3 separate regions of the Homo sapiens genome follow, and all the other regions are linked to region 1. The links come from fine-mapping of genetic effects on plasma protein levels. A gene starts in region 1. Each other region holds a variant in brackets. All regions are shown on one strand. Distances are from middle to middle. Region 1 holds the start of COLEC11 (collectin subfamily member 11). Region 2 overlaps TRAPPC12 (trafficking protein particle complex subunit 12). Region 3 overlaps COLEC11 (collectin subfamily member 11).

Region 1 (4,220 bases):
CCCTCACTTCACTCATCCACTGATCCCCGGAACAGCCCAGGCTGGGATTTCTCATGCCTTCACTCGCTCCACTCATTCACTGACCCCGCTGCCCATTCACAGAGTTTCTGTCCACTTTCCTGCGAGGGGCCCCAGCTAGGCCTATGGGCACAAAGGAGGCACAGGCCCTGCAGCGGGGCGCTCTCAGACGCACAGCAGGAACCAGGGCAGGTAGGCACAGGGTGAGGGCACCCAGGCGCCCGAAGGAGTCTCTGCTTCCCAGAGGTCTCGCCCTCTGACTGCCTTCTTAGAAGAGGAATTCCATTTTGTAAACGGAGAAGCCACAGCTACCCCCAGGACCTCTTTAAGAACAACATCCTTATCTCCCAGCCAGGGCCCAAGACGCTCAGGGCCCTCCCATCAATGGAAGGGGCAGACTTGACAAGCAGGGGAGAGGGGGTTAAACGTGGAATCCTGAGAGGAAATACATGTTATGAATGAAATAAACAATGGGGCCAGGCCCAGTGGCTCATGCCTATAATCCTAGCATTTTGGGAGGCCAAGGTGGGCAGATCACCTGGTTAGGAGTTCGAGAGCAGCCTGGCCAACATGGTGAAACCCCCCTCTCCACTAAAAAGTACAAAAATTAGCCAGGTGCCATGATGCACACCTGTAATCCCAGCTACTCAGGAAGCTGAGGCAGGATAATCGCTTGAACCTGGGAGGCGGAGGTTGCAGTGAGCCAAGACGGTGCCATTGCACTCCAGCCTGGGTGACAGAGCCAGAGTCCATCTCAAAAAAAAAAAAAAAAATGAAATAGACAATGAGAAAAAATCATGGCTTCAGTTGCCAAACATGCTATTCTACTTTTTCATTAAGTATCTACAGCAAGGCCCAGCATCTTACAGGCACCACAAATACCTCCTAAGAACCACATCCCTGAAGCATGAGGAGGTTCCTCTCACTGGGGACTGCCCCAGCCCCACCGCGGTGTTTCCCTCCCTACAGTGACAGAGCACCTTCTGGGGCAGCCTGGATTCCACCCACAACAGCACACGCTCCTCTTAGCTTCTTACCAAGAGCACAGAGTAAGAAGGCACCTATCCTCTCTTATCTTCCCCCAGCGGTCAGCACATTACCGGTGTGCTCTCTTCTACGGTACATGGATTTTTCAAAATTGTAAACAAAATCGAATAGCTGTGAAAGATTGGGGCAGTGCTCTGCCTACCACAGGCAAAGTGCTTCCCATCAAACCAAAATTCCAGCTATGCACATGAGATGGCTTTAAACGTTCATCTTTAAATTGAGAACGACCACATCACCTCAGCTCTAAAAAGACCGCCAGTTCCTAGCGCAAGGCATCCAGGTAGGAGGCAGCGGCCCTAGGAAACTTTCCTCCTTTCCAATTTTGGAGACAAGATGACCCCACTTGGTTTTAGATGACCCCATCTGAACTCAAAGTCTTTCCCTGGAAAGTTGCCAAAGCAAGGCCCACCTTTCCCCCACCTCTCTGATCCCCGTTCCTGAGCCCAACACAGAGCCACTGGTCCCTGGGGGCAGTCGTGGCTGCTGTCCGCCTGGCCCGTCAGACGCTGCTCAGGCTCAGGAACAATCGTCAGGTTGTGAGACCAGGTACTGCACTGCGGTTTGGAATTAGCGAAGACTGTTTAGCCCCCTGGGCCTTGGGCTGTTTGAAATCTGCCACCCAAGAGGGTGACTCCATCATCCAGCACCTCTCATGGGTCGGATCCCATCTCATCAATAGGCTCCACGAATTTCCGCCATGAACTAATCAAACTTTGGAACTCTGGTGCCAGATTTATTGAGACTCAATCTTTTGCCTGGATCTAGGGACAGATTCCCATCCTCCTCGCTCAGCAGGAGCCCACCTCGCGCCCAGTTTGGAAGCCTGCCTGCCTCCCCTCTGCACTGTCATAGCCCCGTGAAACCCTCAGCTGCAGCCCCGGGCAGAGTCTCCTACCTGAGCACGCGCTAGGCGAACGGGGCGTCCTGCCCGTCGCTGGCCCGCGAGGACACTGCCCCCAGGCGCCTCATGGCTGCTATTTAGAGAGGCGGCCGCAGTCCCAGGCGCAGGGAGAAGCCTCGGCCCGGGCCATCAGACAGCCCAGCAAATCAGGCCGCCCGGCCGCAGCGTTATCTCGGGGAGCTTCCTGTCTGCGCTGCGTCCACCGTCCTGCCTGGGGAGTGTGGGAACGCCTGGAACTCCCTGAGGCCGGCTTTGGGGTGGGGGGCAGGACCCTCCTGGAGATGCCCCTGCTAACTCTCCAACCCGAACATCCCAATTTTGTTTCTTTTTTGGCTTTCTCTTCTTTCTTTTCGTTTTTTGAAAAAATAAGCATGACTACTGTGGAAATTCAAAAGAGCATAAAGAGGAGGGACGCTCATCACCTGGCACCAATCAGACAGAAACGAGGGCAGCTGACTGATCTCCTTTCCTTTGTTCATATGGGATTTCGCTTCAAAAGTCAGCAAGAGCTTGACCACGGCCTGTGGAGACCTGGCCACACGTGAGTCCGGAAACTCACTCTACGCATTTAAGTTTCATTTAAAGGCAAGTTTCATTTAATGCCAGAAACAAATGTTAGTCAGGGGCTGGACAGATCCAGCTTCTATGCAGCCCGAATCTTGCATGTTTTGGGGGATAGCGGAACCTTCTTTAAGAAAAAGATACATATAAAATTACAATCATAAGAAGCTAGGTTCAAAGGTGAATATTTATTTAGACTGAGAAATCATAAAATAAAACTGTAAAAACACAAATTCCACACACATAATAAAATTAAGGAAAAATAATGGATTCTTTATTTAAAACGTATTATTGAAGTTATACATAAATTTGACAACTTAGACAAAATGAACCACTTCTTGAAAACACGAACTACAACATGCCCAGCATGAAACAGATAATTCAACAGCCCTATGCCAAGGAAGGGAATTGAACTTGCAATTTAAACGCTCCCCAGAAAGACATTTCAGGGCCAGATGGTTTCACAGGAGGGTCTACAAAACGTTTAAAGAAAAATTAACACCAATTCTACACATCCTCTTCCAGAAAATAGAAGAGGAGGGAATATTTACCAATTCATTTTATAAAGTTGATTATTACCCTGATACCAAAACCAGACAAAGACAGAACAAAAACACTATAGACCAATAACCCTCATGAATATAGATGAGAAAATCCTTAATAAAATATTAACAGACAGAATTCAGCAATATAGAAAAAGATTTATCAACTATGACCAAATGGGGTTTCATCCAGGAATGTGAGGCTATGTCAATATTCAAAGCTCCTTTGATAAAAACCCATTAACAAGCTAACAAAGAAAATCAAATGAATATCTCAATTTATATAGAAACAGCATTTGGCATAAACCAACACCTTTCATGATAAAAACTCTCAGAAAAATAGGTGCAGGGGACCTTCCTCAACTTGATAAAGAGCATCTGTCAAAGGCAAAGCCACAGCTAACATCATACTTCATGGGCAAAAATGGAATGTTTCCTTCCTGAGATCAAGACAAGGCAAGGGTGTCCACTCTTACCTCTTACTCAATGCAGTGCTAAAGTTCTAGGCACACCAGCAGGGCCCGAAAAGGAAATAAACAGCATGTAGATTCGAAAAATAAAATAACTCTGTCCCTTGTTGCAGATGACATGGTTGTCTACTTAGAAAATCCCAGAGTCTACAAAAGAGCTCCTGGAAACTATTAAATCAGTGTGACAGGTGACAGGATACAAGGCAAACATTTAAAAAACCAAGTAGGCCAGGCGTGGTGGCTCACACCTGTAATCCCAGCACTTCGGGAGGCCAAGGTGGGAGGATCACCTGAGGTCAGGAGTTAGAGACCAGCCTGGCCAACAAGGCAAAACCCCATCTCTACTAAAAATACAAAAATCAGCCAGGCATGGTGGTACATGCCTGCAATCCCAGCTACTCGGGAGGCTGACGCAGGAGAATCACTTGACTCCGGGAGGCAGAGGGTGCAGTGAGTTGAGGTTGTGCCATTGCACTCCAGCCTGGGTGACAGAGCGAGACTCTGTCTCAAAAAAATAATAAACAATGAAAAACCAAGCAGATTTCTATAAAATAACAATGAACTCATAGACACCAAAATTCAAAATAATATCATTTACAATTGCTTTAAAAAAGGAATACTTAGGTGTAAATCTAACAAAACATATATAGAACTTACATGCTGAAAACTACAAAATGCTGC
Region 2 (4,220 bases), 160 kb after region 1:
GGTCTGCGGGAGCCTTCCAGACCCTTTGCCCAATTTTAACAGCTTTCTTCAGTAAGGCACAAACTTACAAGTTTGCCCTGGCATTTCCGTCTCATTTTCAAGTTACGCGAGTGCTTTGCTGGGAAGACTGCTTTGTATTTATTTCCCACTGTCTCTGCCTGTCTGGGTGTGTCCTTCCCTATCCTGACCTCAGCAGGCAGGATAAGCCATGCCTTTGGTTTGCCTGTGCTCAACGCTGGGGATACTGCTTGGTGTCTGTGCCCGGCCAAGCACACAGTGTCACACTTACAGCTCTCAACAAGTCATTTTTGACTTTAATGTGGCATTGTAAATTAAAAACAAAACAAAACAAACCAAACACAAAAACAGTGAGAAAGTCCTAAGAGAAAAAAATACCTTAAATATTTCTTATTTAAATGATTTGCTTAACTAAAGCCCTGAAGCATGAAGACAAACTGAGGCTTGGGTCACTGCCTCTGTACGCGTCTGCCACAGTCATGTGCAATCCACGTGTGGCTTCAGCTACAGCCCAGTGACTGGCCAAGGCCTGTATCTTGTGCAGACAGGATAAGGAGAGGTCTCCATTTGGGTGTTCTCATGGTAGATACGGAACCCCAAACTGAAAATTCCCCTATTTTTAGTAGTTTGTTCTAAGAAAAGACTGAAAATGCCAGATTTCATAAAAACGGTGGGCAAAGTGAAAAGCAGTAAGATGAACTAACGAGCCTTCTCCGAACAAATAAAGCAGCGATCACATGTCCAACCATCAACGCTCGGGAGTTCTGATGCAAAGCATTGTGACCTGGAAATCTAAAGCAGAACGTGGTCACTCTGCAAGGTGAGGTAATTTTGTCATGAAAAATAAAATCCGACACTGGAAACATGCTGAATATTTAATTCTGAGATATCACATATGGTTATGTGTTGATAAAAAAAAGTTTCAGAATTTAATTTGAGAACTCAAAATGTGAATTTCATGATTTTGGAGGGAGGATGAAAAAGGAAGAAAGATCCAGTGACAGTGTGCCTTTATGCACATAGAGGAGCAGACAGCTGATGGAAGAGTAGAGAGATTCGGCATCCGATTAATGGAAGTGTTTGCCCCATCCACTTTAATTTGACCTGATGGTAATCCGCACGGATTAAGTTCTGAAGTACCATTTCCTGTGACGTCATTACAGCTCTTGTAACTTAGTCTAAACATGCAGATCTGAATTTAGTATTAGAAGCAGCACTATACTTCTTAAACTGCATAGTGAAGATAATCAAGCTGCTTTATTTCCAGCGGGAAGATCTTTTGGGCTCCTATTTTCCCTCTAGTTGCATGGAAACTTGAAGTGAGCAATCTAATGCAGAATGTGGTACTTTAAAAATTCAAAGCACTATGAAAGTTTACATGCTCACTGCCATTGTGAATGTTTCTTTGGAACGAGAGGGGTAATTCCAAACAACAGATTAAAAAGATGGTGGTGGGGGTCTGGAAAAATTTAACTGCCTGAGAGAGGATGAAATTAAACTTGTCAGGAATGGACATTTAATTTTCTTTAACATAGTGAATATGTACAACACAAGAGTGAACCCAAGTGTAAACTATAAACATTTGTTAATAATGCTGTACCAATACTGGTTCATCAATTGTAACAAATGTACCACACCAATGCAAGCTGTTAATATAAAATGAATGAATGTTCTAGAAATATTTTCATGGATATAATCCCTA[T/C]CAACACTTTTCATGACTGCAAACCCTATAATGGGAGAAACAATCTGCACTAGTGTAACAATTTAAAAAATAAAAAAAAAAATCTAAAAGAAAATTAAAGAAAGAAGGCTAGTACAGGGATCTGAAGAATGGCTCTCAAAAGAGAAACTTTGTAGGATTTTGGAAAGGTATTTTAAAGCCCTAACGTAAATAGTTATTATGAAGTTATCAACATTTAAGACAAACAAAAACAAAAATACTTTTAGTGCTGGGTAAAGGCTGGCATCCATGGCGACGGCGACCCTGCCGCCCTCTGGGCTGGATGATGTTTCCTGGGACCGGGATGCTCCCTGCAGATGCTGAGGTGCCAGTGAAGGCAGACGGCTGTGCTGTGGGGAGATTACAAGATTACAGAGACTGTCTGTCTACAGGGCCAAAGACTCTGTGGGATGAGATCCCGGGAGCACTCACGTTAAGTGCATCCCACTGTACTCGATGGAAGACGGCGAGGGCAGCAGGTGGCCTAGGGCCTCAAGGGTATGCCAGGAGAGAGAGCATCTTTGACAAGTGTGCACGAGGGGCTCTGCGGGCCTGCCTCAGAGCTCTTGGAAGCTCCAGGTGAAGAGCTGCAAGTCAGCAACTGTGTAGACTCTCTTCCCAACACCGCATCTCCCAGAGCTCCTCCACACCCAGCGGACGGTCCCAGCAACAGCGTGCAGAGCTCCTTCACACCCAGTGGATGGTCCCAACAACAGTGTGCAGAGCTCCTCCACACCCAGTGGACGGTCCCAGCAACAGTGTGCAGAGCTCCTCCCACACCCAGCGGAAGGTCCCAGCAACAGTGTGCAGCAGCTCCCTTAGGAAACGTTTTGGAAAGCTGTCTGGTAAATGTCTTTACTTGTCTCAGCCTACTTGGCAATGACATAGGCATGATTTCTTTGCATTTATTATTCCTGATATAACAGTATGTGGAATAAAGAAGATACTCCTAAAACATGTCATGTTGCGAACAAAAAAGGTTATGTTTGTATTTTTAAACTAGAATTATTTTTTCAGGGTTGAAAATAGTATTTCCCAGAATGGGAGAAGATATTAATATTTCCCAAATACAAAACAGATGAAGGATTAAATACCTGCTATATAGAATGAACCTCAACCAATTAATAACAAAGATAACCCAATAGAAATACAGGCCAAGATTATGAAAGAGTGAGTCACCAAAGAGGAGACTCCGACAGACAAAGGACACATAATTCGGCAGAAATCAGAAAGACGTCAGTTGCGACAGGAGGTAGAATTTTAGACTCACTGGTGAAAGTCTGACAATCTTTAGTTACACAAGAGTGGGGAAACAAACTGACAGGCTGTGGCTGGGAGTGGAAATTAGCATGGTCACTCTCACATATGCCACTTTAAATTTACAGCTCAGAGAAACGCCTGAACATGTACAAAGGGAAATGTACAAGGATGCCCATAACACCATTGCTCATAATAGCCGAAAGGTGGAAAGATCCTAATTGTTCATCCTTATGGATACGGATATGGATGGATATGAATAATGGAAAGTGGGGAAAAAAAAGCAAATGAAGACAGATATGCTCATGATGTACATTTACAAAGCTTATAAGACAATAGTCTCTCTCTGTATATGTATTTCTCTGTGTGTATGTATATGTGTGTGTATGAAGCAAATATGTAAAAACATGACCTGGAAGAATACACAACAAACCATGATTGTGACTGCCTCTGGGAGGGGACTGAATTGGGAGGAGGTTCACAGGCTGTATCAGCAATGGGTACTTTCATTTGTTACAAAAATGTCTAAGGCAAATATGAAAAAATATTTGTTAATGGTCCGAGTATTTAATATTTGTATTTAAATAAACATCAATTTTTGTTGAGCAAAGAATAGATTCAACCAGATCCCAAAACAGACTTTCTCATAAGGTACGGAAGTAGTGGGTTAGAACAAAAGTAAATAGCTTTTATTAAAAAGCTATTAGAACAGAAAAAAAAGTAAAGTAAAAGTAAACAGTAAATAGACGTGGGCAACATAGAAAAATCAAATATCTGAATTTGCACAAATCCATCTGGAAACAACAGTGACATCCTGTGCAATGCAAGAGTACTCTACCTCAACTATCTGAAGAATTCACGGATAGGGAACTTCTGTTTCAAAATCAGAGAAACGCGAATAGGAAAGGCAAATTTAAGATATACTTATCTTTTTTTCTGTCCCTGGAGATGCATGATACAGGGTATCACTATGCAAGTGAAGTTCAATTTTCAGAGATAAGACAGTGGCTAAGAGCAAGTTTTCTGCACACTATTTTTATTCTTCTTGTTTTGACATCTTCCACCAGTATGACCAACGCCGATCCTCTGAATTCCTGAAGCTGCATGACAATTCTAGACAGAACAGCTCAGTTGCCAAGTTATGTGTGAAGTCTGAGGGAGCTAAAGCCACACAGTCTTTAAGTGTGTCCTGCAGGGACACAGAGGACTTCCAGTGAATGAAAAG
Region 3 (4,220 bases), 12 kb before region 1:
AAAAAAAAATCAAAGAAAAATAGTTCATAGTAACAACTGGAGGCACGGAAAGAGACCCTGAAAAGCACCACACATTACACTGTGTCCCACAAACTCTCGTTACTAAAGCAGGAGAGAAAGAATCATAAGTCATTAAAAACAGCAAGACTTTCTAAAGAAGAGGATTTAACACACGTTTTCTTTATATCTCTCAGCTAATCACAAAATCCACTTACATGCCATCTCCCAAGGGCTCTGCTTAATGGACCTGTGTCTGTAGTTGTACAGGGCCAGGCGCATTTCAGCCAGTGCTGGGCAGCAGGCACCCCAAATGCCTCACGGCTGTGCCTGCAGTGTGGGGAACCCAAACCTGGAGTCAGAAACTGCTTTCCTTCCTGTGCAAAACCCAGCGTAAGCCCTCCCAGCCTGGTCCTCCTCAGCTCTGATGGGGATTGAACAAAATATGCCCTGGAAGACACCGTGCTGGTTGTCACGAGAAAAAGTATTTTAATCCCTGGTTCAGGACCAACAGCACTGAGGACCAGAGAGTACAGAGGCCTCCCATCCACGGCGGGGCTGCCCTGGTTTCTCCACGGTCCCCGTCGCCTCCGCCTTGTAGACTTGCCCTGTCCACGCATCTTAAGAACCAAGGCTGTTTTCAAGCACTGTTCACAATTTGGCAGGGTTGTTTTTTTGTTTTGTTTTGTTTTTGTTTTTTGTTTTCCAGAGATGGGGTCTTACTCTGTTGCCCTGGGTAGACTCAAACTCCTGGGCTCAAGTCATCCTCCCACCTCGGCTTCCCAAAGTGCCGGGATCACAGGCGTGACCCACTGCACCTGGCCAATTTGGCAAGGTTTGAAGTGTTCATTGTCCACTGGTCCCAGGGGTCATAAAGATGTATGTCCCTGCAGGTAATGACTCCAGAGCAGGATTTCTATACACGTCCCCACTCAACACTCCATGCATTTTGTAATGTAGACCCAGCGAGCACAATGACATTTTTCCCACATCCTTTTCATTTTCAGGATGATTGACTACATAAAGTTCTAATGACAAGTTATTTCTCTACCAGGAGAGGCTAACATTTCAACTGCTGGCTCACTTCCACCATCACCACAACGCAGCTCTCTCCTCGCTCAAAGAAACAAAACGTGGCTGACATTTACTGTTTGCTTGGCTTCCCTGCAAATCATGTACAAATCTACGAACAAAAAGCTTTTACCTAGATCGTATTTGGGGTCATTTCCAACCCAGCTAGGAAGGCGCATGTCAGTTATTTTATTGAGAACCTAAGATACTTCGACATATTTATAGCCAGTTGAGGAAGATCCGTGGACAGTGCTTGACTGTCACGCCACCTGCTTACAAGCTGAACAAACTCGTGTGCCAGCGACTTCACATCCCTGCTGGCCACAACAAGTGCCACGGCACCCCAGGGCCATGGGAAGTCAGAGAGGAGAAAGCCAGGACCTCAGCCTGCCTGGCTTGTTCTACACAAGGGGAGACGGCACAGACAGGCCGTCAGGTGTCAGAAGAGCAAACCTCCCACAGCGCATGTTATTCAGGCCCCATTACTGGTTTTATCAATGTTGTTTTAAAGAATGGCAGTAAATGATTTTAAAATTAATTTGATAGGCCAGGTATGTTGGCTCACACCTGTAATCCCAGCACTTTGGGAAGCCAAAGCGGGTGGATTACGTGAGGTCAGGAGTTCGAGACCAGCCTGGATAACATGGTGAAACCCCGTCTCTACTAAAAATACAAAAATTAGCCGGGCGTTGATGGTGCGCGCCTATAGTCCCAGCTACTTGGGAGGCTGAGGCAGGAGAATCACTTGAACCTGAGAGGCGGAGGCTGCAGTGAGCCAAGGTCGCACCATTGCACTCCAGCCTGGGCAACAAGAGAGAAACTCCATCTCAAAAAAAAAAAAAAAGCAAAAAAAAAATTCATTTGATAAAGCCTATAAGAAGAACTATGACCTTTCATATTTCTGGGAAACACATTTGTTAATACAGATAAATGTTTTCTCACCTACAGCCATTTTTTTAACCATTAAAAAAAGACTTTTTTCCCATTAAAAGGAGTTGTCATTCTCTCTAAATGTAAAGACAATATATTATTCCCTCTAAATGTAAAGATAATATATTATTATTATCTGAAATGGCCTGGAATGGCAAATAAATGTCATCTCAAGCACCACCAGCAGTCAGCGGCAGCCTGACTCGTGTGCTCAGGAAGATTCTCCAGCCAAATGTGGAGTTGGCAGAGGTTTCAGGATCCAAAACACA[G/A]GGGGTTGTGGGGGTTGGGGGGGCGGCGCGTGCTGTGTTTCTCAGACCAGATGCCACCCCGTGTCCGGGGCCGAACGGCGGGACTGTGAGGAGACAGGCCGCGGCTTCTTCATCCCAGCCCTGAGCCTGCCTGGTGGATTCTCAACGGACGCTTGTCTAATGAATGGTGACTGCGTGTGTGTCTGTTTCCTTAGAAGCTGGCACTGTGCCGCACGCTGCCTCTCCTCTTTGACCTCCAGCGACCCTGGGGGGCTACGGCACATGCTGGGGCCGGCAGGGATGAAGTCTGCTGGCACACACCATTTTCTCCATTGAGTAACCCAATTCCTGACATGCTGGGTATCCTGAATCCTTCTAAACCGCTCCTTGCCCCTGGTGCTCGCCTCTCGCTTGCGGACTCGCGGGGCACGTGCTGGACGGACACCTGATCTGCTCCCTGGTCGGGCTCGCTGCCTGCACAGGGTTAGTGCTTTGTAAGTCACTGTCCCAGAGCAAGGAGCAGGGGCTGGGTCCCCGGTCACTGTGTGCCCACTCCTGGTGCCACCACTGCATCCCCACAGAGCCCCAAGCTGGCATCGCCTCCCCAACCTCACGGACCAGGAGGCCGAGGCTTGGGAGGACAGGTGACCCGTCACGCAGGACGGCTGACCCACAGCACCCTCAGACCTGCCCTACTTCCCAGCCTGCAAAGGTTGAGAAGGGACCCTACCCATGTGGGAAATGACAGCACATCCAGGGGACCCAGGACGTGGACAGCTGGGAAGGACCCTCCCAACAGCACCTGGGAAAGGCGGCGCCCAGAAAGGACCCTGGAGCCCACCCCACGGCCCCCACCAGTGCAGGCTACTGACCTGGCAGGGCGCAGGGAAGACAACCGTAGGGACTCGGAGGCACCCACCACATTGGGCAGGGACGTGACCTCCACAGCCAAAAGTCCAGCTCTCCACAGCCACCGTTTCCAACCTAAAGCTGAAGGTTCCACTCACAAACCCACACACGCTACCACAAAGTCAGGGCCAAAGCCACTTTCACCAAAACTTCTGAGAGAGCCGTAGGCATCCAACAGTTTAAGTTGCTTCCAACATAATTAAACATTTTCTAAAGCAGGTACATTTATCACAATTAAAAGCACAAAGGCCACTGGGCTTGTCTGGGCTGCAGGACAGTCCACTTGGTTTCCAACAGCAGGGCTAACACAGCCGGAAAAAAGCCCCCAGCCAGAGCTGCACAGCCTGGCAGGGTGGCCCCGAGCTGTCCGGACCCTGTGCCCCGGGAGAGGGCTGACCTTTTCATTTTGTACAACACGGGCTGAGCAGGGTTTGTCTTTCGTGGTGACTGTTTTGATCATGGGTTTGAATCTACTTTTCTCTAATGTTTCAATAAAAAGAGCCGCAGACGCTCCACAGGAGAAGCTGAAGGCCCAAGCGGACCGCGGATGAGGAGGGGGCGGACCGGATTCAGGTTGCAAAAGGTCAATGTGCCCCTCCCCCTCCTCAGGACCCACGTGACTCCCCTCCCCTCCTCAGCACCCACGTGACTCCCCTCCCCCTCATCAACCACGTGACTCCCCTCCCCCGCCTCCTCAGCACCCACGTGGCCGCCCCTCCCCCTCCTCAGCACCCACGTGACTCCCCTCCCCTCCTCGGCACCCACGTGACTCCCCTCCCCTCCTCGGCACCCACGTGACTCCCCTCCCCCTCCTCGGCACCCACGTGACTCCCCCGCCCCCTCCTCGGCACCCACGTGACTCCCCCGCCCCCTCCTCGGCACCCACGTGACTCCCCCGCCCCCTCCTCGGCACCCACGTGACTCCCCTCAGCGGCGGCCTGGACTCTGCTGCGGCCGGTGCAGCCCCGGCCCTGCCACCCGACACTGGCACACACTCTGCTGTCCCTTCTTGGGTTCTGTAATTTTGAACAAGGGGCCCACATTTTCATTTCACACCGGGCTCCC

The links. PIP is the chance, under the fine-mapping model, that this variant and not a neighbour inherited with it causes the effect. Sun 2018 read protein levels with aptamers (SomaScan).
Region 2: its variant is fine-mapped to the plasma level of the COLEC11 protein (Sun 2018, PIP 0.95).
Region 3: its variant is fine-mapped to the plasma level of the COLEC11 protein (Sun 2018, PIP 0.95).

Annotation. Positions count from the first base shown.
Region 1 is chr2:3,592,909-3,597,128 of GRCh38, reverse strand. COLEC11 (collectin subfamily member 11) reads right to left here and starts at 2,017. Exons shown (of 7, transcript NM_024027.5): 1 at 1,961-2,017.
Region 2 is chr2:3,429,176-3,433,395 of GRCh38, reverse strand. All of the region lies in intron 5 of TRAPPC12 (trafficking protein particle complex subunit 12), which reads right to left. Among named protein-coding and RNA genes, the nearest start is that of TRAPPC12, 52 kb to the right of the region's middle. RefSeq lists an enhancer at 2,259-2,759. The variant T/C (reference allele first, on the strand shown) is at 1,721.
Region 3 is chr2:3,605,142-3,609,361 of GRCh38, reverse strand. All of the region lies in intron 2 of COLEC11 (collectin subfamily member 11), which reads right to left. Among named protein-coding and RNA genes, the nearest start is that of COLEC11, 12 kb to the right of the region's middle. The variant G/A (reference allele first, on the strand shown) is at 2,268.